4 separate regions of the Homo sapiens genome follow, and regions 2, 3 and 4 are each linked to region 1. The links come from fine-mapping of genetic effects on gene expression. A gene starts in region 1. Each other region holds a variant in brackets. All regions are shown on one strand. Distances are between the middles of the regions.

Region 1 (7,453 bases):
ATTATTATTAACTATATTCACCCTCCTGTGCTATGGAATACTAGATCTTATGCTAATTAAATGTTTTCCCTATTTCTCCCATTGGCTACACCTTAGGATAGTGCAATATGAAAATCAGGAAACTGAGCTTGGTGGAGTGTTTTCTTCATTCTGTCATTTTATCACATGAGGACATTCACGTAACCACGGTCACAAAATACAGAACAGTTCCATCACCACAAAAATCTCTCTCCATCTACCCCTTTTTAGTCATCCGAACCCCACCACCACTCTATAATGCTGTCATTTTGTGACATAAGTGGACACATCGTACAGTTCATGCAGTGTAGACCTTCGGAGATGTTTTCCTCCCTGGATGTAATGCCTTGGAGCTTCGTCCAAGTTATTGCACACATCAGTGGTCAGCTCCTTTTTATTGCTGAGTAGTGTCCATGGCATGGGTGGTCCACGGTTTGTTTCACCACGTCAGAGTGGCATGGGTGGTCCATGGTTTGTTTCACCACGTCAGAGTGGCGTGGGTGGTCCACAGTTTGTTTTGCCACGTCAGAGTGGCGTGGGTGGTCCACGGTTTGTTTCACCATGTCAGAGTGGCGTGGGGGGTCCATGGTTTGTTTCACCATGTCAGAGGACATTTTGGTTGTTTCCAGTTTGGGGTCAGTAATGTACAGGCTTTTGTGTAGACATAAGTTTATTTCTCTGAGTTCAATGTCTAGGAATGCAGTTGCTGGGTCATAAAATTGTTTACTTTTTGAAGAAACTGCCCAACTATATTCCAGAGTGGGTGCACTATTGCTGTTCCCATCAGCAATGTATAAGAGATTAGTTACTCCAGAATACATTATTCCCAGCATTTCATATTGCCACTGCTGTATATTATTTCAGCTGTTCTAATAGGTGTATACTAATATCCCAAGGCAGTCTTTTTTTTTTTTTTTTTTTGAGACAGAGTCTGACTGTGTCACCCAGGCTGGAGTGCAATGGTGTGATCCCAGCTCACTGCAGCCTCCACCTCCCAGGTTCAAGCGATTCTCCTGCCTCAGCCTCCCAAGTAGTTGGTATTACAGGTACCTGCCACCATGCCCAGCTAATTTTTGTATTTTTAGTAGAAGCAGGATTTCACCATGTTAGTCAGGCTGGTCTCGAACTCCTGACCTCAGGTGATCCACCTGCTTCGGCCTCTCAAAGTGCTGGAATTACAGGCTTGAGCCACCGCGCCTGACCTCAAGATAGTCTTAATGTGCATTTCTGTAATGGCTAGTGATGCTGAACCTGGTCACAAGCTTATTTGCCACTCATATATCCTTTTAGTGAAATGTGTTTTCATGTTTTTTGCTTGTCTTCTGTTTGTGTGTGTGTATGGTTTTTTTTTTTTTGAGATGGAGTCTCATTTTGTCACCCAGGTTGGAGTGCAGTGACACAATCTCAGCTCACTGCAACCTCCGCCTCCCAGATTCAAGCAATTCTTGTGCCTCAGCCACCCAAATAGCTGGCATTACAGGTGTGCGTCACCACGCCTGGCTAATTTTTGTATTTTTAGTAGAGACAGGGTTTCTCCATGTTGGCCAGGCTGGTCTCAAACTCCTGGCCTCAAGTGATTTGCCCCCTTAGCCTCCCAAAGTGCTGAGATTACAGGCATGAGCCATTGTGCCCAGAATAATTGTATTTTTTTTTACTGTCAAGTTTTGAGAGTTCTTTATATATTCTAGCTACTAGTCCTTCAACAAACGTGGTTTGAAAATATTTTCTCACAGTCTGTAACTCATCTTTTCATCCTCTTAATGTGGTCTTTCTCACAAGGTTGGTTTGTTTGTTTTGAGATGGAGTCTCGCTCTGTCGCCCAGGCTGGAGTGCAGTGGCACGATCTCAGCTCACTGCAACCTCTGCCTCCCAGGTTCAAGTGATCCCCCTGCCTCAGCCTCCCGAGTAGTTGGGACTACAGGCACACACCACCACGCCCAGCTAATTTTTTTGTATTTTTCATAGAGACAGGGTTCACCATGTTGGCCAGGATAGTCTTGATCTCTTGACCTTGTGATCCACCTGCCTCGGCCTCTCAAGGTGCTGGAATTACAGGCGTGAGACACTGTGCCCGGCTTTTTTTTTTTTTTTTGAGACGGAGTCTTGCTCTGTTGCCCAGGCTGGTGGCACGATCTCCGCTCACTGCAACCTCTCCGCCTCCTGGATTCAAGCGATTCTCCTCCAGCCTCCTGAGTAGCTGGGATTACAGGCACATGCCACCATGCCCGGCTAATTATTATATTTTTAGTAGAGATGGGTTTCACCATTTGGCCTGGCTGGTCTCAAACTCCTGACCTCAGGTAATCCGCCCACCTTGGCCTCCCAAAGTGTTGGGATTACAGGCGTGAGCCACCGCATCCGGTGAAAAGTTTCTAATTTTTTCATGAAGTTTACTCTATCAACTTCTTTTGTGAATTGTGTTTTTTTGGTCAGATCTAAGAACTCTTCCCCAAGCTCTAGATGTGAGAAATTCTGTTTTCTTCTAAAAGTTGTATATTTTACGCCTCAGTCTGATCATTTTGTGTTAGAATTTGCATTTGCAGATAACATGATGGCCCATGTAAAAAATACAAGGATTTTACAACAACAACCGCAAAACACCAAATGAACCCTCAAACTAATGAGTTCAGCGAGGTCTCAGGATAAGAAAATCAACATAGAATTCATCACATTTGTGTAGACCAACAGTGAACACGTGGAAAACGTCAAAAACGCAGTGTTACAGTTGTTTGATGTGAAATACTATAAACTTAAAAGGTGCAGAATCTGTATGCTGAAATTACAAAATGCTGGTGGAAGAAATCAAAAGACCGAAATAAATGGAGGGGCCACCAGGGACGCAGATGAAGGACCGAGTCAGCGATGCCCGTGCTCCCCAAACGATCTGCAGCAGTTCCCATCAAAATCCCAGAAAACTTCGTAGACTGAAGCGTATTCCAAAATCCGCAGAGATGAGCGCAACATCACAGAGGACCCCGAGGCGCCCTCCAGGCCATTTCCTTCCTGACAGCTGGAAGAGCGGCCTGGCGGATGAGGGAAGGTGGAAAGCCGTTCCCCAGCGGCCAGCGGCCCGCGCCGTCCAGCTTTGCCCTTTTTAAAGGGGAAGCAAATAGGGTCCAAAGCAGCGTCGCCTTTGATCTGGCACCTGAAGCGCGAAGGGCGCCGGCCGGGTGGAGGTGCGGGGTTGGGGCGGGGACCCGACTAGGGCGGGCGGGGAAGTCACGCCCACACCGAGCTCGGCCGCGCCCATGCCGAGCCCCGGCCACGCCACTTCCGCCGGAAGCTCGGTTCAGCTTCCTGAAAGAGTTGGTCCTGCAGTTCCGGAAGTTGCGTTTCTACTAGGGAAAGGTCCGCAAACTCTTAAGGTCACTTTCTGAAGGCGGCCTCATCACAGTCGGAGGTGAGCTCGATCCGGACCCTGTGGGCAGAGGGTCCCCGGCCCTAGGGTGGCCACTTGAAGAAGAGGAGGACGTTCTCTGTTCCGGAACGAAAGTAGCGCGTGCAGGCTGTTTCCGGGGACCCGAGGCCGATGCACCGCTCGCCCCGCCCCTCTCACGGCCACGTCTCCGCCGGAGCATCCGGGCCGGGCGGCCTCCGGGGCTGCCAGAGCAGCAGGGTGAGGGGCTCGGAGGCCGCGGCGCCTCGGGGCTCGGGCTCCCGCTCCCGCTCCCGCTCCCGCAGTGCATGGGCGGGGGAGGCTCGAGGGGCGGCGGCGGGGCCTGGGCGCGTCCCTGCAGCGTGGCGGGACGGCCCCGTTCCAGTCACCCCCGCCTCGCTGCGGTGGCCTCGGGCCTGGGCGCCCGCCTTCAGCTGCGGCGGAGCTGGCTCTGTAAATGCCGGTGCCCGCGAGCCCTCCTGAATGCTTGTCTGCGCCCGACGAGCGCGGCCTGTCCCGAAGCTGTCCACTGCCACCACTCGGGCAGTGCTTGCTTTAGCCTGGCCCTTTGCAGCTGAAAGGCGTGACATGGTGTCGGGTGGTTCGTGGGAAGTCGGGGTTTCAGGAGTCCGTGTACTTCCTTGTTTGTCTTTGTCGCTGGCCGACTTGTCTTCATTCCAGGTGGCCAGAGCGAGTGGGGCCGGGCGTTGTCACGGGTATGAACCCGACGAATGTCAGTCGTGTGGCGGGTCCTGGGTATTGTGGGTCTGGGTCACTGCCCCCGCGGAGCCCACCTAGGACAGGGACACCCAGGGTCGCCAGCGAGAGGGTACCGGGCGGTGGTTGGGTGGGGTCCGCTACTCTAAGTGGGAGCCTGGGGGGCGGGCGACTTCCGTGCTAAGGCCTCTATGACGAGAAGCAAGCCAGGCAAAATTGTGAGAAAAGCGCGCCTCAGGCAGAAAGTTTGAAGACCCTGAGGGCGGAGGATGTGGCCACAGTGTAATGGCAAAGGGGGAAAGCGATGGCGGTAAGGATGTTGGTGTAGGCAGGTGCTGGATTCTTAAGAGGTTGGAGTTTATTGTCACTGGGCCAGTGTAAGCCATTTACAGATGACTCATGGATTTTTTTTTTTTTTTTAAGAGACTGGGTGTGTTGCTGTATTGCCCAGGCTGGTGTGGAACTCCTGGCCTCAAGCGATCCTCCCACCCCAGCCTCCCAAAGTGCTGGTGTTACAGGTGTGAGCAGCCACACCCGTCGTCGTGGATTATTTTGAACTGTCTTTTAAACGACATCAACATAGCGCTTTATAACCCTTTAATATCTTTTCAGGCAGTATACCTTAAATGGCAAGAAGGAAATAAATCATCTGACATCACTCAGATTGAAGAGGAGCTTTTTTTCCCCCGATTGCCTTAAGAAGTAGCATACTTTCCCAAGTGAGAATGCCTTCAGTTGGCTTTTAGCGATTTTGACAAGCAACAACTAAAGGGAAAATCGTGATAATTACTGTCATTTTATTGAGGACACGGGACAGACTCTGTGCCTTGTTATATTTAATCCTGGCAAAATTTTGCGTTCATTTTCTCATTGTTTTACTGGTGAGGAAACAGGCTAAATGTGATTAAGAAATCTTTAGCCCAGGCTCTCACAGGTAAGTGGTGGAGGGTCGGGAGCTGAGGCCGGAGTCCTGACTTCCAAGCCTGCCCTTCACGTCTCTGCAGTGACATGAGGCTTGCTTGCTTTTGGTTTTCACTTTGTGTATAGATCTGTGTTTACTTTTGGATACTAGTGTGGCCTCCACCAGGTACTCTTTTCCTGAGGAAATCGTGTTTGGTTTTTGGCTGTGCTCTGTTGTTTCTAATACCCGATAGGAACAGGTGAAACGAGGTGGTGTAGATGGAGCCGTGAATGTTTGTATACAGAATTCAGGTGTGGGGGAAGCAGAAAGTCCTGTAGGTGCCTGAGGTGGTGGTTTCTCAGTATGAAGTCCCTTGATGTTACCCAGCTGTGAACCTAGGGTTGTGTGTACCTTTCGCAGTTCTAAGTGACAGCTTTGTCCTGTCTCTTCTCTCTAGAGACGCAGGAGTGCGAGTGATCATAAGTGAGACTGATTAGACTGGCCTCTTTATTTAAAATAGAGCCATGTTTGTAGTACCAGCTTTCTGTGATGCACTGGCAGTTGCTCCTCCTCCTCGCTGCCCGGAGATCGCTTTTTGTCAGTAGTCTGAGGTAATGAGGCCCTGACGACTGAGTCATTCCAAATTTTAACTAAAAATCAAGCAAGACTGGGAATCGACCGAGACTGCCAGCTTATTGCCCTACAGGGAGAAGTATCACTGTCACCAAACTCCAGGCAGTTAGTGAATTCTCTCTCTGGTCCGGCTTCAGGAGGAGCTGCCTGTAAAGAGGGGCCGTCTTTGTGACTTACAGTCACCGTCATGGGGTCTCTGTTCTGGAGAGGTGGGCTGCTTGGACACCAGCAGGGGAATTAAGTGAGCAGAATCTGTGATTGCACTGGACTCAGCTCGGTGCGGTTGGCTGTCACCATGTTGGCGTGCCCTCTCGGTGGAACCTGAGCGTCTTTGGCTGTGTTCCTTCTTGGTCAGTGTAAGGCCCAGGCGTCGTCACTGTGGGCCTCTGCAGCAGTTCTCCTCTGCAGCAGTTCTCCTCTGCATGTTCCACCTGTAATGGCTGAGTCCAGTCCTGCTGGTCATCCCATCCTTCCTTCTGTTCAGGTGGTGGTGCCTGTCTGGGCCGTGGCCGTGATGCTGCTCTTCCAGTTTCTTTTTTTTTTTTTTTTTTGGAGAATGAGAAAATAACTTTATTTCATTGTGGGGAGCGGGCTGATGTCCAGCCTCAGAACTTCTGGAACTGCTTCTTGGTGCTGGCAGCCTTGGTGACCTGGAGCACGTTGAGGTGCACTGTCTTGCTCAGAGGCCGGCAAGGCCGGCACTCGCCCACTGTGACGATGTCACCGATCTGGACGTCCCTGAAGCAGGGGAACAGGTGTACAGACATGTTCTTGTGGTGCTTCTCGAAGTGGTTGTACTTGCGGATGTAGTGCAGGTAGTCTCGGCGGATGACAGTGGTCCTCTGCGTCTTCATCTTGGTCACCACGCCAGAGAGGATCCGCCCTCGAATGGAGACATCACCAGTGAAGGGGCATTTCTTGTCAATGTAGGTGCCCTCAGTAGCCTCTTTGGGTGTCTTGAAGCCCAGACCAATGTTCTTGTAGTACCGCAGGAGCTTCTCCTTGCCAGTTTCTCCCAGCAGGACCCTCTTCTTGTTTTGAAAGATGGTCGGCTGCTTTTGGTAGGCACGCTCAGTCTGAATGTCCGCCATCTTCCCGGCCACTGAAAAAAGGTGCTCTTCCAGTTTCTAACTCCCTGGACTCCCTCATTGGAACTGAAGCTCACAGATGTTTCAGCTGGACTAGTTTAGACTTTGCTGTATTTTAAAAGGCAGTGTTGATGCTCCAGGATTCAAATACTTAATCATTTTGTTTTGGAACCATTAGCTTTGTAGCAGAGGAATGTACTCAGCAGAATCAGCAGAACTGAAGATTTAATTCGGCAAATTAAACCTGTGTTGGCACTTTAGGAGTTGGGAGTGTTCAAGGTGGTGGGAGGCAGACGGGGAATGAGTCTCTGTCTTCAAGGATCTCGCCATGTAATGGGCACACACGCAATGGCAGACATGACGTGCTGTGGTGGAGGCCACGTGAGGTACAGTGATGGCAGAGGGGGTAGACGAGACACTTTACCTGCGGGGCCAGGAGGGTCTGCACGCGCAGGCACACACCGTCGGTTCCTTTACCTGAGGGGCCAGGAGGGTCTGCACGCGTAGGCACACACGGTCGGTTCCATATAATCACCCCACCCCCGCAAGGCAGAAGCAAAGACATCACAAAGCAAAACGCAAGTTTTCTTTTGCTAGGAAATTTTCAAGAGGACCAGATGTACAGGGTACCAGTATTCAGTGGCGCAGTCGAGTCCACATTCCACCGCGTGTAGTCCTCCGTGCCAGTTTGTAATTCATCTGTCAAAGGGGCAAGCCTGT
Region 2 (5,753 bases), 55 kb after region 1:
GCTGCGGGTACCTGTGTGTGAGGCGCTGGGCACAGGCGGGAGCAGCAGGGAGGAAGGAACTGGAGGGGCTACAGCAGCTGCTGCGGGTACCTGTGTGTGAGGCGCTGGGTACAGGCGGGAGCAGCAGGGAGGAAGGAGCTGGAGGGGCTACAGCAGCTGCTGCGGGTACCTGTGTGAGGCTCTGGGTACAGGCGGGAGCAGCAGGGAGGAAGGAGCTGGAGGGGCTACAGCAGCTGCTGCAGGTACCTGTATCTGAGGCGCTGGGCACAGGCGGGAGCAGCAGGGCAGGAAGGAGCTGGAGGGGCTACAGCAGCTGCTGCAGGTACCTGTGTATGAGGTGCTGGACACAGGCGGGAGCAGCAGGGAGGAAGGAGCTGGAGGGGCTACAGCAGCTGCTGCAGGTACCTGTGTATGAGGTGCTGGACACAGGCGGGAGCACCACTTCTGGGGCAGCCCCTGGTTCCTGTGCCATGCGGCCTGCGGCCAGGCAGTGCTCCCGGGGAGCTGGCGCCCTCGTCCAGTGGGGCGCTCGCAAAGCCACCTGGTCCACGTCATGCGGCAGGACAGAGGCAGGGGCGAAGCCTGGGCCGGCTCCGATCCCTTGGCCGCGCTGTGTGTCACGGACCAAGAACGTGATTTCATGGACTACAGCAAATGGGAGGGTGCGTGGGAAAAGTTTGCCAATTTGCGATAAACTTCTCAACAAAGAACTCAGGGTTCGGTCTTGACTGCTCGGGAAAGGAGTGTAATTGCTAAGTTCCCCTTGTAAATGAGGGGCTTGAGTTACAGTGAGAATTTATTTATAGACACAGGCCGACAAGCGTCCATCATCCAGAAATCCAAAACCTGGCCAGGCCTGGTGGCTCACACCTGTAGTCCCAGCACTTAGGCAGTGAGCTGTGGTTGGACCACTGCACTCCAGCCTGGATGACAGAGTGAGACCCTGTGTCTAAAAAAAACAAGAACAAAAATCCAAAATCTGAAACTTTCTGAGCATCAACATGATAAAGGAAATGATCATTGGAACATTTCAAATTTTTGGATTGTGGATACTCAGCTGGTAGTTGTAACGCAAATATTCAAAATTCCAAAATTTGACACACTTCTGGTCCTGAGCATTTTGGACCTGGACTGGCATCATCTAGATGGCGCCGAGGAGGACATGTGTGTGCTTAACCTATGAAAATACAAACTCGGATCTTGGCAGGATGTTTAAGATCTGTTAGCTTTTAAAAATCTGACTTCATTTTCCACAGAACGTCAAGTCTGAGTTGGAGATGGCCCAGGAAGACCTGTCCATGACCCAGAAGGATAAATTTATGCTCCAGGCAAAAGTGTCGGAGCTGAAGAACAACATGAAGACCCTGCTCCAGCAGAACCAGCAGCTCAAGCTGGACCTACGCCGCGGCGCGGCCAAGACGGTACTCAGGCCCGCGTCCCTCCCGGGGTAGCCGACGTGCGCTGTAGATGCTCTCGGACAGGAGGCTGGCAGACGTGTTAGTCATTCAGACATAAACGGATTTGTTGAGCCCACACTGAGCAGCTGCTGTGTAGTCAGTGGTAATGGGGTGACAGATGAAATCATTTCATTCTGGTTTCATTCATCCAACAGTGTTTTCCTCGTTCTGTGAATTCAAATACCACTTTGTTGTAATGTGCTTTGTAAAGCAGATGAGCGGTGGTCTGTGACTCGGCAGTCCCTGCTGTGTGTGAAGGGCTGGGGCCCGGGAGCTGTGCCCAGGCGCCCGGCGGTTTTCTGTGCTCGGTCCACATCCATGTTTTCCAGGAGGCAGGTGGGAGGGCAGCGCTCGGATTGAGAGGCCGTTTAGCGTCGTGTGCTTATCTGTGGAAAAAGTTTGAAGTCCCAGAAAAGGGAGCCTAAGCTGGAAAACTTACTTAATTTCTTACGGAAATTCCACATCAAGGTCTTGAGTATCTGATGGGAGAAGCGTCTGGGAGAGCTGTAGTCTGTGGCTCGGCCCCGTCCTGCCGCAGACCCAGGACTTAGGTTGTCTCTGCTTTGCTCTGGTTTTGTGCCTTAGGAATAAAGGTGTTTCCTCAGCCAGCTATTCTGGAGCTCCGGGGACTGTCGTGCTGGGCTGCCACGGCGGCCAGGACGGTCCCCTTCCCAGAGGCCCCACGTCCACCAGTTGGGGAGGCCCGTTTGCCACAAGCTGTGCTAGTGAGACTGACCCGAGGGAGGGGACGGTGGGAAAGCTGATCATGTGCTTTTAAAAACAGAGAAAGGAGCCGAAAGGCGAGGCCAGCTCTTCCAACCCTGCCACGCCCATCAAGATCCCGGACTGCCCAGTTCCCGCCTCGCTGCTGGAGGAGCTGCTGAGACCACCGCCCGCCGTGAGCAAGGAGCCCCTCAAGAACCTGAACAGCTGCCTCCAGCAGCTCAAGTACGACCGTATTCCGTGCTGCACTTCAGCTAGTCTTAAAGATTAATGCCCTCTTACCTGGGAGGGCACTCCTGGTGCCAGTACTGAGTGCCCAGCAGAGTTTCAGCAGGTTTATATAAGGGTGGGGGACTCGCATACATAGCCTCTGAGGTTTATATAAGGGAGGGACTTGCACACACAGCCTTTGAGGTTTATATAAAGGGGGAAGGACTCAGCCTCTGAGGTTTATATAAAGGGGGAGGGGGACTCGCACAGCCTCTGTGGTTTATATAAAGGGGGAGGGACTCACAGCCTCTGCGGTTTATATAAAGGGGGAGGGGGACTCGCACAGCCTCTGAGGTTTATATAAAGGGGGAGGGGGACTCACACAGCCTCTGCGGTTTATATAAAGTGGGAGGGGGACTCGCACAGCCTCTGAGGTTTATATAAAGGTGGGGGAACTCGCACACACAGCCTGTGAACTCATAGGTGGAAACTGCCTGGAGTTAAACTACCCTGATAGGCCCTGAGAAGCTGGAAGGCCACACATGGTGCACCTGGCAGCCTGAGGCTGAGCGAAGTGTGTAGGGCGGAGCCAGGCGGCGCCCCGAGGGCAGGTAACGGAGTGGAAGTCGTGTGTGCCAGGCCTCAGTGACAGCTTCCACCCTGCCGCCTGGTCAGGACTGGTCCTTGAGCCTGTGTCCTCTGCACAGTGTAGAGAACGGTGCTGAGAACAGCTGAGCTTCTGTGGTCTCAGTTGGTTTGCGGATCCCCGAAGGCGCCCCGGTCCACTCAGGTGCTAGCGAGTGACGCTGTCCACAGGTGGCGCGTTCTGCCTGGCACTTGTGTGATCTGGGCCTTCTTCCTCCTTCTTCTGTCCCAGGCAGGAGATGGACAGCCTGCAGCGCCAGATGGAGGAGCACGCCCTGACGGTGCACGAGTCTCTGTCCTCGTGGACGCCGCTGGAGCCAGCCACTGCCAGCCCTGTGCCCCCGGGGGGTCACGCCGGCCCACGCGGCGACCCACAGAGACACAGTCAGAGCAGGGCTTCCAAAGAAGGGCCGGGAGAGTGACTGCTGTGGACTCGCCTCCGTGCGCCGCTGCCCCAGAAGGCTCTTATCAATGTTATTTATTTGATTGTGT[G/C]GTCGATGTTTTTCTAAGACATGAAATTTAAGTTTTGTTTTGCCTTTAACAAGAAGTAAAATATATAGCAGAATGAGAGCCAAGGACTAGAAAAACATTCGAAGATCACAATTAGCTTTTCACATGGAATGACCAACTCTTAAAAGCCTGATAGGCTCTCGGCGAGGAGCTTTGAACGTGTCTGAAGGGTTACTTGTAGGTCGTGGCTTCTGAGCGGCCACCGATGCTGCTCTCTGCGGGTGACAGGGAGAGGCTGCGTAACTGGGAGCAGCTGTGTGACAGGGTCTGCGGCACCGCGCCTGGCCAGGCCGGCTGCAGTTTCTCACTTCCCTGTTCCATTCAGTAAGAGCTTTACTTTTCCGCAGAAATGAAATTTTATCTGTACCTTTGGCTTTTTACTTGTTTTTTTGGATAGCCATCCCACCATAGGATGTGTACATAGATACTGAATATCATAATCCAATCTTTGTTTTTTTTTTTTTTTTTTTTTTGAGACAGAGTCTCGCTTTGTTGCCCAGGCTGGAGTGCAGTGGCACACTCTCCGCTCACTGCAAGCTCCGCCTCCCAGGTTCATGCGATTCTCCTGCCTCAGCCTCTCGAGTAGCTGGGATTACAGGCGTGCGCCACTATGCCAGGCTAATGTTTGTATTTTTAGTAGCAATGGGGTTTCACCATGTTGGCCAGGATGGTCTCGATCTCCTGACCTCAAGTGATCTGCCCATCTCAGCCTCCCAAAGTGCTGGGATTACAGGCGTGAGCCCCTGCGCCCGGCCTGTCACCCAGTCTTTAAGAAGCATATGCTCATGTTATTGAAGAAGAACCTACTTATTATTGATTGCCTTTTGAAAATTTGTTGGGAATAATTTACCTGCAGGATTTAGGGATAGTCAGAAAATTCTAAGAAATATAATTATTTTATTTACCTTCTAAAGCCAAATATTCTTACACAGAAAGGTCCTCTGTTGTTCTGGTTTTACTTTGTTGCTGAGGATCTTTCCTTCCTGCTGGTCTCTTCCTCTCAGGCCACTGGCCCTGTGTGATTCCACCGTGGCTGGCCACTGGGAAGGGGCAGCTTGGACCCTTGGTCAGGCCTGACGGCCATCAGGAGGCACAAGGACACTGAGGCCCCATATCTGATCTGACCTTTGGGGGGGCACAGGGAGAGGCCGGTGGAGGAGGAGGAGGAGAGCAGACCAGGGGCTCCCTGCAGCGACTCCCGCGGTTTCCCCTGGAGTCAGCCAGGTGTAGGTCGCAGGCGGTAACAAACCTCACACTCCTGTTCCCCAAGTGAAAATCTTTACCATTGTCTGTGGGAGCGCCTGTACTCGTGTGTAGGAGCACCTGTACTTCTGCAGTCATCGAGAAGTCCTGGATCTTTTGTGGTTACACCAGCATCATGTGGCAAGCAGAGGCGACTTCCGGAAGAGACAGGCAGGCACCGTGAGGAAGGTGGCTGTGCTCTCCCAGGTGTCTCAGAGACAGATGCCTTATTTAAAATCAGCACGACATGTGTGAGATCTTCTGTTTCCTACCCCAAATCCTGAAACCCTGCAGACACTGGCTGACTGGGAGAGGTGGGGTCTGTAAGTTGTCCCCTAGTTTGCTAAGAAAATCTAAAATAATATTTATTATATGAGTTAGGAGAGAGAGAATGGGTCCGCGTGGCCTCCTCTGCAGATGTACTGGTCTGAAATGAGGTTCTGAGTCACTGGCCAGGCCAGATGTGCTCATGTCGGTGTCTGGTGTCTGTTTTGTGGAGAAAACAGTATGGTGTGTTTTAAGCTATTTGTGTTCTGTTGTAATATACTTTTAGAAGGTTAATTGGTAAGGTTAAGGTAGCATTAACCACAAAGATGTTTGGTATTTAAAAAATATTCTCTAGCAAATATTGGAATTTCCAAAATATATCATTTGTACAGGGTTAATTTTGAAATAATACTTGAAAATTTCATTATAAATATATCCTACTTTTTATCTTAAGTTGAAGATGTTATTTACTAAATTGTTCTTGTACCATTAGAAAAAAAAATACGGCAATTTACGTTCTTATTTATTTTGGCTGTACTACCCCTTTGTTTTAATTTTAAAATCAAGAAATCGGGCCGGGCGCGGTGGCTCATGCCTGTAATCCCAGCACTTTGGGAGGCCGAGGCGGGTGGATCACCTGAGGTCAAGAGGTCCAGACCATCCTGGCCAACATGGCAAAACCCCGTCTTTACTAAACAT
Region 3 (7,453 bases), 67 kb after region 1:
TCCTTCTGAGCGTTAAACGTGCATTTCTGGAGACTGGATAGATACGTCAAGTGTATCTTCCCAATGCTTTCAAAAATGCCCCCATCTTCACCCAGAAAACAGACCCCCCCCCCCCGCCACCTGCCTGTCCCTGCAGCTGGGCGTCTGATGGTCACGGCCGTAGCTCCCCTGAAACCCCTCATTCCCCTGCATCAGCCCAGGTCCCACCAGGTTCTGGAGCCTGTACGTTTCCACTCAGGGCCGTTATCTCCACCTGAGGGCCTCTGGCGTCCTGCGGTTGCCGTCCCTGCCCCTGCATTTCCTCTGCTGAACCACTTGGCCTGGGCTGTTTTCCTGACTAGACCCTACTGTATGTAACATACGGCTGGGTTTCTACAAGTGCTAAATAGCCATTGATAACAAACTTAATAGACACACGGCCTTTAAGGAAATCCAATTAATATTGAAAAAGAAGGGGAAGAAAAGAAATTAGCTACTCCCTGCTCATCTAGGGCTTTTCCCAGCACGTTGGGAGTAAATCCTCGAGCTGTGAGACTTCAGCTTCCGCTCAGTCCCTGGGGCTCACATGGCCCCTTTGTGATCTCGGATCAGAAATGAAGTAGAAGTTAAATTACAACTAGGAATAAAATCAGGGCTGGGCGCAGTGGCTCACGACTGTAATCCCAGCACTTTGGGAGGCCGAGGTGGGCGGATCATGAGGTCAGGAGATCAAGACCATCCTGGCTAACGCGGTGAAACCCCGTCTCTACTAAAAATACAAAAAATTAGCCGGGCGTGGTGGCGGGCGCCTGTAGTCCCAGCTACTGGGGAGGCTGAGGCAGGAGAATGGCGTGAACCCGGAAGGCGGAGCTTGCAGTGAGCCGAGATCGCGCCACTGCACTCCAGCCTGGGCGACATAGCAAGACTCCGTCTCAAAAAAAAAAAAATTCAGAACGGCTCTCAGAAGAGGCCATTGATTCTAATAAGCTTCATTTTGTTCATTCACCGGAAATCTACTTCTACCTGCAGGAGTTTACGTCTCAAAGTTTTTCATTTCTACCTAAACAGTAGCTAATATAGGGTTGGCTTCTGAACAGTGGAGTTGTTCTCCATGTTTTCCTGTGATTGTTCCTTTCTCATTTAACTGGGAGTGGATGCATTACATGGGGGTGAGGGCATGGCCCTATCAGGACCCTGGCTGCTTACCTGGATTCCACAGAAGTCCTGGTGTCAAGGCTGGTGGAGCTGCTGCACCAGAGACCCTCAAGCATGAAAACAGGATTGACCAGGACAGCCTCACGGTGCCGAGAACGAAAGTGCCTTCCCTCTCCGCTAATCCACAGCGTCCACCTGCCCGAGAACAGCTCTCCCAGTCCCACCTTCCGTCCCGCTCTGAGGTGAGCGGGGAGAGAAAAGACAGGAATGCGCATTGTGGGCGCTTGGGCTCCGTGGCCGCGTCCATCACCGTCCGTCCACTCTCCGCTGCCTTTGCTTAGTCATGTGGTCGCTGGATGTGTTCAGGAGACGGCAGCGTCTCCACAGCCCACTGAGAGCTTCTGTAACTAAGAAAAAGCTCTTAATAACTTAATGGAGAGTGGACGCTGGGTGTCAACAGCTGACTACAGCTGACCATTTAACAAATCGGCTCTAAAGCCCTTCATGTATGGAGGCTCCGTAACGAGGACTTACATAATTACCTTTTTATGTATGTATGTACGTACTTGTTTATTTATTTATTTTTGAGACAGGGTCTCTCTCTCCCAGGCTGGAGGGCAATGGCGCAATCTTCGCTCACTGCAGCCTTGACCTCCCAGGCTCAAGTAATCCTCCCTCCTCAAGGCGTGTGCCACCACGTTCAGCTAATTTTTTAAATTTTTAGCACAGACAGCGTCTCGCCATATTGCTCAGGCTGGTCTCCACCTCCTGGGCTCAAGCGATCCTCCTGTCTCGACCTCCCAAAGTGCTGGGATTACAGGTGTGAGCCACCGTGCCCAGCCTTCTTGGGCCTCTTCTAAGGGAAGTATATAAGGCTCTGTCCCATGACCTATCACCTCCCACAAGCCCCACATCCTAATACCATCACCTTGGGGGTTAGGGTTTCTTTTTTTTTTTGAGACAGAGTCTCGCTCTGTCACCCAGGCTGGAGTGCAGTGGCGCGATCTTGGCTCACTGCAAGCTCCGCCTCCCGGGTTCACACCATTCTCTTGCCTCAGCCTCCCGAGTAGCTGGGACTACAGGTGCCTTCCAGCATGCCCGGCTAATTTTTTGTATTTTTTAGTAGAGACTGGGTTTCACCGTGTTAGCCAGGATGGTCTCGATCTCCTGACCTCGTGATCTGCCCGCCTCGGCCTCCCAAAGTGCTGGGATTACAGGCGTGAGCCACCACGCCCGGCCAAGGGGGGTTAGGGTTTCAACATACGAACGCTGGGGACAGACACTCAGAATACAGCAGAGGTGTACGTTTAACTTTGAAAGAAACTGCCTCACTATTTTCCAAGGTGGTTAACTCAGTGTTTGCTCTTGCCAGCAAAATTTGATATTGCCAATTTTTAAATTTTAGCCATTCTGGTGGATTTCAAGCAGCATCTCATCGTGGTTTGAATTTCCATTTCATCCATCTTCAAAATTACTGACCCTTTCTTCTGTAGTGCCCAACCAACCATTAGTACCATCCAATGATATTTTTTAAGAGATGGGGTCTTGCTATGTTGGTCAGGCTGGCGTGCAGTGGCTATTCACAGGCGAGATCACGCTCATGGCAGCCTCGAACTCCCGGACTGAAACTACCATCACCCCTCACGCTCCAGAGTTGCTGAGACTACAGACCTGAGCCACCTCGCTCAGATCAATTATGTTTTTAACCAAGGATATCAATTATATTTTTCAGGTCTTTCATTTTCATTTAATAATATCTAAATTAGGCGGGGCGCGGTGGCTCACGCCTGTAATCCCAGCACTTTGGGAGGCCGAGGCTGGTGGATCACTTGACATCAAGAATTCGAGACCAGTCTGGCCAACATGAGGAAACCCCGTCTCTACTAAACATGCAAAAATTAGCCAGGCGTGGTGGTGGGCACCTGTAATCCCAGCTACTTGGGAGGCTGAGGCAGGAGAATCGCTTGAGCCCAGGAGGCGGAGGCTGCAGTGAGCCGAGATCGCGCCACTGCACTTCAGCCTGGGCGACAGAGCAAGACACCGCATCAAAAAATAAATAAAACATCTAAATTACATACAGTAAAATCCTCCTTCCCTTTTTCGAGACAGGGTCTCACTATTAGGTTGGTGCAAAAGTAATTGCGG[C/T]TTTTACCATGACTTTCAAAATATTTGCCCGGGCTGGTCTCGAGCTCCCGGGCCGTGGGGATCCTCCCGCCTCGCCTCCCAAGGCGCTGGGACTCCGGACGCAGCCGCCGCGCCCGGCAAAATCCGCGCTTTCAACTGCGCGTCAGGGCCCCTTGGTGAAGGAGCGGGAAGCTCCGCCGGTCTCCATAGCGCCGGCGGCCTGTTCTGCGGGTTCGCGGGGGAGTGAGAGGCGCTTCCTCACTCCTGCTCCAGGACGGGACGACGGCCGCAAACAGTACTCGGGCTCGGAGCACACGAACCCGGAGGCCGCTTCGTTCTCGGAGACGCACAGCGCCCCACGGACGCCAGGCCGGGGCCGGGAGGCGCGAAGAAGCGCCGCCCCGCGCCCGGCCCCGCCCTGGTGGCCTCCCCGGGCCCCAGCCCCGGCCCCCGCCAGCACATTGCGCTCCCCGCGCCTCGCCGGTCCCAGGACCCCGCGTCGGGCTGCCCGCGCCCCGCCTGCCGCGCCCGCCCGTCCGCTCGCCCGTTCCCGCCCGCTTGGGTCCCAGGGCCGGGGCCGCGCCCTCGCCGGGCCTCCGCGAGCGGGGCCGCCGTCCGTGTCCCCCGCGCCGCCCCGGCCGCCTCGAGCGCGGCGCCGTCAGGCAGGGCGCGGGCAGCCCGGCGCGGGGTCCTGGGACGGGCGCGGCGCGGGGCGCGGGCTTCTCGGCGGCTGCGGCCCGGGCGGCGGCGATGCTGTGGCCGCGGCTGGCGGCGGCCGAGTGGGCGGCGCTGGCCTGGGAGCTGCTGGGCGCCTCGGTGCTGCTGATCGCTGTGCGGTGGCTGGTGCGGCGGCTGGGCCCGCGGCCGGGAGGTCTGGGCCGCAGCGGGACCCCAGTTCCTCCGCCAAGCGCGGCCGCCGCCCCCGCCTCAGGTAAGGCCCAGGCGGTCGCTGGGTCCCCGCACCCTGGCCCCTTCCCCGCCCCGACGCCCTCCTCGGGCCTGGGGTCCCGGCCGCGCCCCTGGAGCCGGCAGCAGTTGGGCGAGGCGGCCGGGGAAACCAGGGCCGGTCGGGAAAGGCCATTCCGGCCGCGGAAAGGGCAGTTGCGGGGACTTGGCTTCCCGGGCCGGGGGCGGAGGGGCCACGCCGGGTTCGGGGGTGAGAGCTTTCCCGGGCCCTGGAGCAGCCTCCGGGGAAGGCGGCGGGGGCCCGGCGAGGCGTTAGCGGAGACTCTTGCTGCGGTCTCTCGAGACCTGGGGAGGGATGGCCCAAAGGAGGGCGGCGCGGGGAGGAAACCCCTGGGTCCCGGATGTGTTTGGAACGTGAAGCCATTGCGGTTACTGGTCATGGAACATAAGGCAGAGACGGAAAAGGCAAATGTAACTCAGGGGTTTGGGGCCAGAGGAAGAGGGAGAAGGTGGCCATTTATTGCTTTGCGGTAGACTGTCGGGTCTGGGTGATGTGGAGATCAGAGGTGGGTTTTGGTCGTTTTAAGTTTGAGGTAACTGATACAGTGAACTGTGTATTTCAGCTCCATCCCCTTTTCCTGGCATACAACTCTTGAAATCCCGGGAACCTCCAAAGTGATGTCTTTTGTAGGCTGAGTGGACTGGTGGCCGGCAGCCCCTAGGGAGCTTCTGGATGGGGCTGGTCGCAGGAAAGACCAAGGCAGGGTTAGAGGTTCTGGGGACTTTCAGCCCCACCCCCAACCTCTGGGGAGGAGAGAGGGGTGAAGGTTGCGTTGATCACCAGTGGCTGATGAATCACGCCTGTGAAATGAAGTTCCTGTAAAAACCCAAAAGGGCTGGGTTCAGGGAGCTTCCAGATAGTACGTGGGGGTTCCTGGAGGCGGTGCCCAGAGAGGCCCTGAATTTCCAAGCGCTTCCCCCCGGTTTTACGTCACGCATCTCTTCACCTGTATTCTTTGTAATCCTTTATACTCTGCTGGTAAGTGTAAGTAAAACATGTCTGTGAGTTCGGGAGCCACTCTAGCAAATTACCGCAACCTGAGGAGGTCACCGGGTTACGCCCCGTCGGTCCCAAGCGCAGGTCAAACAACCTGGGCACTGGAAGTGGGGGGCAGTCTTGCGGGGCTGAGCCGTTAACCTGTGGGGGTCTGCTGGTATCTCCAGGAAGACGCTGTCAGAATAGATGACTGAATTAGGATGACAGACGACACCCAGCCTGTGTCCACTGCAGAACTGACGACCTGCGTGATTTGTGGGGAGAAAATCCCCACATACCTGGTGTCCGAAGCATGTTGCAAGACTAGTGGGAGAAACTGAGTTTGTTTTTACTCTAAATTGTCAGACTGTTAGTCACTGCGGAGAGGTGCTTTCTGATGATTGAGTGGGGATTCCTGTCCAATTGTGTGAGTTTGTGTCTCGGCCCTACCACTTTTTTTTTTTTTTTTTTTTGAAATGTAGTCTCGCCCTGTGGCCCAGGCTGGAGTGCAGTGGCGCGATCTCGGCTCACTGCAAGCTCCGCCTCCCGGGTTCAAGCGATTCTCCTGCATCAGCCTCCCGAGTAGCTGGGATTACAGGCGCCTGCCACCACGCCCGGCTAATTTTTGTATTTTTAATAGAGACGGGGTTTCACCATGTTGGCCAGGATGGTCTCGAATTCCTGACCTCAGGTGATCCACCTGCCTCAGCTTCCCAAAATGCTGGGATTACAGGTGTGAGCCATCGCACCGGGCCCTACCACTTATTGCTGTGGGCTTAACCTGTTTTCAGCCTGCTCTTTTAGGAATGGGGATGATAGTGATACCTGGTTAGGCTTTTTTGGGAGTTGGGTAAGTGCAGCACTTGGTATGTGTTAAGCACCTCTGAGTGCTGTTACTGTCACCAGCGGCATCATCCAGGCAGAGCTGCGGACAAGGTGGCGGCGGGTGAGGGTGGTGTTTTGAGAATGGCTGAAATAAAAAAATACTGATTTATTTTATATAAAAATATGTTTTTATATATGATGTATAATATACGTATATCATGGCATATGATACGTGTATATCATATAGCACATATAGTATACATATATATAGTCAGCAGAGATTTAGAGAAACTGGGCCTCGTGCATTGCAGGTGGGGACGGTAAGTGGTGCAGCTACTCTGGGAATCAGCCTGGCAGGTTTTTAGGAAGTTAAACCTGCCCTGCATTCCTGAGCTTTTATTAGACAAATGAAAACTATTTTCACACAAAAACCCATATTTAATGTTCATAGCAACTTTATTTGTAATTACCAGAAACTGAAATAACTCAAATGGTTAAACTTGCACACTGATACCCCGGGGTGCCACTCCGCAGCGATCCTCTCTGCCACGTGGGTGCCCCGGGGTGCCACTCTGCATGATCCACTCTGCCACGTGGGTGCCCCGGGGTGCCACTCCGCAGCGATCCTCTCTGCCACGTGGGTGCCCCGGGGTGCCACTCTGCGTGATCCACTCTGCCACGTGGGTGCCCCGGGGTGCCACTCCGCAGCGATCCTCTCTGCCACGTGGGTGCCCCGGGGTGCCACTCCGCAGCGATCCACTCTGCCACGTGGGTGCCCCGGGGTGCCACTCCGCAGCGATCCTCTCTGCCACGTGGGTGCCCCGGGGTGCCACACTGCGTGATCCACTCTGCCACGTGGGTGCCCCGGGGTGCCACTCCGCAGCGATCCACTCTGCCACGTGGGTGGATCTCAAGGGCATTATGCTGAATAGGAAAAGCCAGTCTCAAAAGTTGTGTACTTGGCCGGTTGCGGTGGCTCATGCCTGTAATCCCAGCACTTTGGGAGGCCGAGGCAGGTGGATCACAAGGTCAGGAGTTCAAGATCAGCCTGGCCAACATGGTGAGGCAGTCTCCACTAAAAATACAAAAAAATAGCGGGGCGTGGTGGCAGGTACCTGTAATCCCAGCTACTCGGGAGGCTGAGGCAGCAGAATTGCTTGAACCCAGGAGGTGGAGGTTGCGGTGAGCAGAGATCGTGCCACTGCACTCCAGCCTGGGCGACAGAGCAAGACTCCATCTCAAAAAAAAAAAAATTGTTAATGGAACATTATAACCCAGTGTTCAGACCTAGCTGTTTCTCACATCTTTACCCATCGATCTGTCAAAGACCTTGTGATCATACTGATACTTCCAATTTCAATGCGACGTCCGCGGGTTTATTCTTTTTTTTTTAGGTGGAGTCTCACTCTGTTGTCCAGGCTGGAGACT
Region 4 (7,453 bases), 31 kb before region 1:
GAAATGGGGTTTCACTGTGTTGGTCAGGCTGGTCTCGAACTCCTGACCTCAGATGATCCACCCACCTTGGCCTCCTGAAGTTCTGGGATTACAGGCATGAGCCACCGCGCCTGGCATTTTTTTTTTTTTTTTAAGAAATGAGGTCAGGCCGGGCGCGGTGGCTCACGCCTGTAATCCCAGCACTTTGGGAGGCCGAGGTGGGTGGATCACGAGGTCAGGAGATCGAGACCATCCTGGCTAACACGGTGAAACCCTGTCTCTACTAAAAATACAAAAAATTAGCCGGGCGTGGTGGCGGGCACCTGTAGTCCCAGCTACTCAGGAGGCTGAGGCAGGAGAATGGCGTGAACCAGGGAGGCAGAGCTTGCAGTGAGCCAAGATCACGCCACTGCACTCCAGCCTGGGTGACAGAGTGAGACTCTGTCTCAAAAAAGAAAAAGAAAACAAAAGAAATGAGGTCTTGGCCAGGCACAGTGGCTCATGCCTTTAATCCCAGCACTTTGGGAGGCTGAGGCAGGTGGATCATGAGGTCAGGAGATCGAGACCATCCTGGCTAACACGGTGAAACCCTGTCTCTACTAAAAATACAAAAAAATTAGCTGGGTATGGTGGCGGGTGCCTGTAGTCCCAGCTACTTGGGAGGCTGAGGCAGGAGAATGGCGTCAACCCAGGAGGCGGAGCTTGCAGTGAGCCACTGCACTCCAGCCTGGGCAACAGAGCAAGAGTCCGTCTCAAAAAAAAAAATGAGGTCTTGCTCTGTTGTGCAGGTTGGGAGAGTGATGTGGTCATGGCTCACTGTAGCCTCGAACTCCCGGGCTCAAGTGATCCACTCACCTCAGCCTCCTGAGTAGCTGGGACCATATGCTCGTACTGTCACGCCTAGTTAATTTTTTTTTCTTTTTTGTATTTTTTGTAGAGATGGTGCCTTGCTGTGTTGCCCAGGCTGGTCTAAAACTCCTGGGATCAAGTGATCCTCCCACCTTGGCCTCCCAAAGTATTGTGATTACAGGTGTGAGCCCCATGCCCAGCCTCAGACCTCTATTTTTTATTTTTATTTTTTTTTCCCCAGAGGGAGTTTCGCTCTTGTTGCCCAGGCTGGAGTGCAGTGGCACGATCTTGGCTCACTGCAACCTCCGCCTCCCGGGTTCAAGCAATTTTTCTGCCTCAGCCTCTTGAGTAGCTGGGACTACATGCACTCGCCACCACGCCTGTCTAATTTTTTTGTATTTTTAGTAGAGATGGGGTTTCACCATGTTGGCCAGGCTGGTCTCGACCTCCTGACCTCAGGTGATCCACTTGCTTCGGCCTCCCAACGTGCTGGGATTACGGGTGTGAGCCACCGCACCCGGCCCAAAGCTCTGTTGTAACAAGTTTATGACACAGTGTGTATCATATGACCACGGGTATGTGGGTTTGCCCTGCGTTAGACTCGGTGCTCGAGGGCTAAGCCTGGTCACAGACATCTCCGCATTTGTTTCTCTGCAAATGGGCTCCTTGCCCCCAGCTCCACCCCACGTAGAGATAGGCACAAATAGAGTTAAGATGTGAGTTGAGTGAGCACACACTCCTCGTAAGCCACTTGTCATTCCTAAACTACGACATCTCAGGCTGCCAGCTGCACTGGGCTCCAGTCAGTGACACCTTACAGGCATGGTTCTCTCCTGAGCTGGATGGATCAGCACCTATCTTGTTTGATTCCTCTCACAGGGTCTGGGGGTGGTGGCATCTCCCCTAAAGGAAGTGGTCCCTCTGTGGCAAGTGATGAAGTCTCCAGCTTTGCCTCAGCTCTCCCAGACAGAAAGACTGCGTCCTTTTCGTCGTTGGAACCCCAGGATCAGGAGGATTTGGAGCCCGTGAAGAAGAAAATGAGAGGAGGTTAGTGTCTGGTTGTGTGTGTCCTCAGTCCTCTCGTGTGCTCCTGGGGCATGCGGGGGCCGCTGCCATGCTCCGTGCTGTGGGGCATTGCTTCCTGCAGGGGCATGTGGACCCTGCCTCAGGTTGATGCCTGTAACACCTCCGGCATTTTCATTCAGAAAACCTGGGCCTGTTTTTTTGCGGTTTGCATAATCCAGATAGAACTGTGATTTGCTACAGGCTGTTCTCTTGGTCTGGAAATAGTGCATTCTGAATTGCAGAATTAATCTCAAAATCCTCCTTCCTGGCCAGGTGCAGTAGTTCATATCCGTAATCCTAACACTGGGAGGCCAAGGCAGGAGAATCACTTGAGGTCAGGCGTTCGAGACCAGCCTGGGCGACAGAGCAAGACTTTATCTCTAAAAATAAAAATCAAGCCTGACACCGTGGCTCCCGCCTATAATCTCAGCACTTTGGGAGGCCAAGGTGGACGGATCATCTGAGGTCAGGAGTTCAAGACCAGCCTGGCCAACATGGTGAAACTCCGTCTCTACTAAAAATGCAAAAATTAGCTGGGTGTGGTGGTGCATGCCTGTAATCCCAGCTACTTGGAAGGCTGAGGCAGGAGAATTGCTTGAACCCGGCAGGTGGAGGTTGCAGTGAGCCAAGACTGTGCCATTGCACTGCAGCCGGGGCAACAAGAACAAAACTCCATCTCAAAAAAAAGAAAATCAAAAAGAAAGCCCTCTGTCCTGGTAGGACAATAATTTCTAAAAATGTAGCTTAAATCTTCACATTGAAGATGATTTAGGGAGAAGTCTGCACTTTGAAAGCCAAAGTTAAGATTATTAGAAAACATTTGGGAATGTTATGGTAGAAGCATTGCTGTATAGCAGTCCAGAGAGCAGCCAGCCACTGGGGCACTGTGACAGGAAGGTTCTAGGAGGGGTCCCCAGGGAAAGAAATTAGGTTATCTGACACGTGGGGTTGATCGGTGTGGGGAAGGTGTGGAAAGAGTCAGCAACAGTTACACAGGAAAAATAAGCACAGGAATGAGGAAATTTTAATTCTAGCAAACATGAAAAATTGTGTAAGTCACACAACTTAATCTAGTAAACTACTTGGCTCAGCAGTGAATACTTGCATAAGCATAATAATACAAATACAGTATCATGAACTAATGTAATCTGTTAATGTAATGTTGGCAGGGGTGTCTCAGGACAGAGTTTTTCTCTACCTTAATAGATGTCAGGAATGATGTCTAAAATTGATAAATCAAATGTACCATGATAACTTAGAAACACAGAGGTAAATACCAGAAGAAACAGCTCAAAGACATGAAAATAGTTTTCCTCCGAGGAGGGAAATTGGGTGAGGAGCGGCTGAGACGGAGGGTGACTGCCTTTGTTTTCTTCTAAATATATTATGTATACATTTTTTTAAGAGACAGGATCTTGCTTTGTCACCTAGGCCAGAGCGCCGTGGTGCAGTCTTGGCTCACTGCAGCCTCCACCTCCTGGGCTCAGACTGTCCTCCCACCTCAGCCTTCCGAGTAGCTGAGACCACAGGTGCACGCTACCATAGCTGGCTAATTTTTTTTCCCATTTTTTTAGAGATGGGGTTTCATTATATTGCCCAGACTGGTCTTGAACTCCTGGGCTCAAGCGATCTGCCCACCTCAGCCTCCCAAAGTGCTGGGATTACAGTTGTGAGCCATTGCACCTGGCTTCTTCTAAATACTTGGCTTTTTAAATTGTGTACAGTTTCTTTAATTAAAAATAAAAATTAATTGATTACCAACATCTGAGCATTATAGAAAAATAAAAACACCAGAAGAGGGTGGGGCGCGGTAGCTCACACCTGTTACCCTAGTACTTTGGGAGGCCGAGGCGGGTGGATCACGAGGTCAGGAGATTGAGACCATCCTGGCTAACACGGTGAAACCCTGTCTCTACTAAAAATACACAAAATTAGCCGGGCGTGGTGGTGGGCACCTGTAGTCCCAGCTACTCAGGAGGCTGAGGAAGGAGAATGGCATGAACCCGGGAGGCGGAGCTTGCAGTGAGCCGAGATCGCGCCACTGCACTCCAGCCTGGGCGACAGAGCGAGACTCTGTCTCGAAAAAAAAAAGACTGCATGTATTTCCTTCTCGGTTACGACAGTTAGAACACATCCCTTTCTCCTGTGGACGGGGACCTTGACCTGAACCTGC[G/A]TGTATTTCCTTCTTGGTTACGACAGAACACATCCCTTTCTCCTGTAGATGGGGACCTTGACCTGAACGGGCAGTTGTTGGTCGCACAACCGCGTAGAAATGCCCAAACCGTCCACGAGGACGTCAGAGCAGCGGCTGGGAAGCCAGACAAGATGGAGGAGACGCTGACATGCATCATCTGCCAGGACCTGCTGCACGACTGCGTGAGGTGCGACCGTGTTCACCCTTGGCTCACGGAACATGGCACTGCAGGTTCTTCGTCCCGTGTGGGGCAGGGCTGGGCATGAGACAAGCCTGCAGGTCCTGTTTGGCCTGGCATCTGCTGAGGTTACTCTGTCACCCAGATAAGTGGGTGGAGTGGGTGGAGTGGGTGGAGCTTTCTCAGCCCACTGCAACCTCTCCCTCCCAGGATTGAGCGGTTCTCTGACCTCAGCCTTCTGAGTTGCTGGGACTACAGGTGCACACCACTATGCCTGGCTGACTTTTTTTTTTTTTTTAATGTTCTAAATATTTTTTATTCCTTTTTTTTTTTTTTTTTTTTTTTTTTTTTAGATGGAGTCTCGCTCTGTCACCAGGCTGGAGTGCAGTGGCACAGTCTTGGCTCACTACAACCTCAGCCTCCCGGGTTCAGACGATTCTCCTACCTCAGCTTCCTGAGCAGCTGGGACTGCAGGCGTGTGCCACCATGCCCGGCTAATTTTTTTGTATTTTTTAGTAGAGACAGGGTTTCACCATGTTGGCCAGGCTAGTCTTGAACTCCTGACTTCAGGTGATCTGCCCACGTTTGCCTCCTAAAGTGCTGGGATTATAGGCGTGAGCCACTACTCCCAGCCACCCTGCTGATTTTTGTGTTTTTTGTAGAGACGGTTTCGCCATGTAGCCCGGGGTGGTTTTTTGTTTTTGTTTTTGTTTTTTGGAGTTAGAGTCTCGCTCTGTCACCCAGGCTGGAGTGTAGTGGTGTGATCTTGGCTCACTGCAACCTCCACCTCCCAGGTTCAAGTGATTCTCCTGCCTCAGCCTCCCAAGTAGCTGGGACTACAGGCATGCGTCACCACATCTGGCTAATTTTTTTGTATTTTTAGTAGAGACGGGAGTTTCACCATATTAGCCAGGCTGGTCTCGAACTCCTGCACTCAGGTAATCTGCCCACCTTGGCCTCCCAAAGTGTTGGGATTACAGACGTGAGCCACCCCGCATGGCTACCACTTTCATTCTACTCGTGGCACCAACAAGGAGGAAACCTGGAACCCAGAGCCGGAGGCTGTAGACCCCACAAGTTTTGAGTGTGTGGGTCGTGTGTGACCCCGTGAACTCTGCAAACAGATGAAAGGAACTCTGCACATTTTAAATGCTCCTTATCTGGGAAGGTGTATTTCGCATAGAATGAACGTAGGAGCCGCTGAGGAAGGGCCTCCTTGCTTTTCCGCGGGAACTCAAGAGTGACAACCTTCCAACTTCTGGGCCAGAAACACTTGCTGTCTCTGTTGTTTGTGTTCCTGAAGTCATAATCTACTCGCCTCTGTCTTTCCTGAAAACACAGAGGCCGTGTGGCCTCTGATTTCTTTTCATTAACCAAGACTGACTTAAAGGGTTTTTAGGTTGAACGATGGCTGGGCCCCTGTAGGCCCTTCCGTGGTGGGGCTGCTGCGGACCTTGGTCGAGGGTCGCGGTTGCATCTGTGGGACTGTCTGGACACTGTTCCTCTTGCACTTTCAGTTTGCAGCCCTGCATGCACACGTTCTGCGCGGCTTGCTACTCGGGCTGGATGGAGCGCTCGTCCCTGTGTCCTACCTGCCGCTGTCCCGTGGAGCGGATCTGTAAAAACCACATCCTCAACAACCTCGTGGAAGCATACCTCATCCAGCATCCAGGCAAGTGAGGGCATCCACACCAGCACCCGGGCACGTGAGGGCGGTCCCTCCACCACCACCCAGGCACGTGAGGGCATCCACCCAGCAGCACCCGGGCACGTGAGGGCTGTCCCTCCACCAGCACCCGGGCACGTGAGGGTGGTCCCTCCACCAGCACCCGGGCACGTGAGGGCATCCACACCAGCACCCAGGCACGTGAGGGCGGTCCCTCCACCACCACCTGGGCACGTGAGGGCATCCACCCAGCAGCACCCGGGCACGTGAGGGCTGTCCCTCCACCAGCACCCGGGCACGTGAGGGCTGTCCCTCCACCAGCACCCGGGCACGTGAGGGTGGTCCCTCCACCAGCACCCGGGCACGTGAGGGTGGTCCCTCCACCAGCACCCAGGCACGTGAGGGCATCCACACCAGCACCCGGGCACGTGAGGGTGGTCCCTCCACCAGCACCTGGGCAAGCGAGGGTGGTCCCTCCACCAGCACCCAGACAAGTGAGGGCGGTCCCTCCACCAGCACCCAGGCAAGTGAGGGCATCCACACACCAGCACCCAGGCATGTGAGGGCGGTCCCTCCACCAGCACCCGGGCACGTGAGGGCATCCACACCAGCACCTGGGCACGTGAGGGCAGTCCCTCCACCAGCACCCGGGCACGTGAGGGCGGTCCGCCCAGACCCCTCCTTCCGCAGCACTGCGCACGCGAGCTCCCAGCAGTGTGAGCTGTGTCTGCCTGCCATGTCTCACTGCCGGTGAATGGCGCTGTGTCCTTTCAATTCTAGACAAGAGTCGCAGTGAAGAAGATGTGCAAAGTATGGATGCCAGAAATAAAATCACTCAAGACATGCTGCAGCCCAAAGTCAGGCGGTCTTTTTCTGATGAAGAAGGGAGTTCAGAGGACCTGCTGGAGCTGTCAGACGTTGACAGTGAGTCCTCAGACATTAGGTAAATCATGCCCCTGGCTCAGAGCAGAGTGTGTGAGCCAGAGGAGCATCACAACCGTGACCGAGAGCTCACTACTGGGTGGACAGCATGGGTCCTGAGATCTAGTTCTGCCCTGAGCAGCCAAGCTCTTAAATGGCTTGAGCTTGTTTTCTGATATTGGATAGTATTAGCACCTCCCCTGAGAGGCGTGGCAGGGACTGGGTGAACACTTAGCGGGGTAGCCAGGGGGTAGCCAGCAGAGCGTCAGCCGCAGGCGACTGCTGTAGACATTTGCACCCTCGGCTGACACCCTTCCCTTTGCTTCGACTCGTCATGGGTGTGGCATCTCTGGCTGTGACAGAGGGACATCATTCCATGTTATTTTTTCCCACATGAGCACATGTATTCTTTGTAGTTGATCTAGCGACTATAAAGTCCTATAGTATAAATTGCAATGTTTATCATTTGTCAGGACGTTATTACAGAAGAGGCACCATCACCAGGCCAAGACAATCCCAGCCTCAGAGACCTTATTTATCTGCTGACATGTTGAGGTTTCCTAATGCACAAGACCGGGGTCTGAATGTTGGGTCGAGGCCA

The links.
Region 2: its variant is fine-mapped to the expression of GOLGA3 in whole blood (TOPMed, PIP above 0.99). The same link has a PIP of 0.9 or more in breast, esophagus mucosa, esophagus muscle, fibroblasts, gastroesophageal junction and left ventricle.
Region 3: its variant is fine-mapped to the expression of GOLGA3 in nasal epithelium (TOPMed, PIP 0.94).
Region 4: its variant is fine-mapped to the expression of GOLGA3 in whole blood (TOPMed, PIP 0.99).

Annotation. Positions count from the first base shown.
Region 1 is chr12:132,824,984-132,832,436 of GRCh38, reverse strand. It overlaps GOLGA3 (golgin A3), which reads left to right and starts at 3,568. Exons shown (of 24, transcript NM_001389683.1): 1 at 3,568-3,634. CHFR (checkpoint with forkhead and ring finger domains) reads left to right here. Exons shown (of 18, transcript NM_001161346.2): 18 at 1-81. It also overlaps the pseudogene RPS11P5. RefSeq lists silencers at 3,051-3,260, 3,631-3,690, 4,191-4,290 and an enhancer at 3,341-3,480.
Region 2 is chr12:132,770,809-132,776,561 of GRCh38, reverse strand. It overlaps GOLGA3 (golgin A3), which reads left to right. Exons shown (of 24, transcript NM_001389683.1): 22 at 1,257-1,421; 23 at 2,242-2,405; 24 at 3,268-5,753. The coding sequence ends at 3,457. Among named protein-coding and RNA genes, the nearest start is that of ANKLE2, 12 kb to the right of the region's middle. RefSeq lists an enhancer at 4,561-4,760. The variant G/C (reference allele first, on the strand shown) is at 3,528.
Region 3 is chr12:132,758,354-132,765,806 of GRCh38, reverse strand. It overlaps ANKLE2 (ankyrin repeat and LEM domain containing 2), which reads left to right and starts at 3,975. Exons shown (of 13, transcript NM_015114.3): 1 at 3,975-4,189. The coding sequence starts at 4,009. RefSeq lists enhancers at 3,307-3,406, 3,761-4,629 and silencers at 3,557-3,846, 3,937-4,526. The variant C/T (reference allele first, on the strand shown) is at 3,280.
Region 4 is chr12:132,855,889-132,863,341 of GRCh38, reverse strand. It overlaps CHFR (checkpoint with forkhead and ring finger domains), which reads left to right. Exons shown (of 18, transcript NM_001161346.2): 7 at 1,708-1,875; 8 at 4,115-4,274; 9 at 5,783-5,937; 10 at 6,712-6,874. Among named protein-coding and RNA genes, the nearest start is that of CHFR, 28 kb to the left of the region's middle. RefSeq lists an enhancer at 5,588-6,787. The variant G/A (reference allele first, on the strand shown) is at 4,067.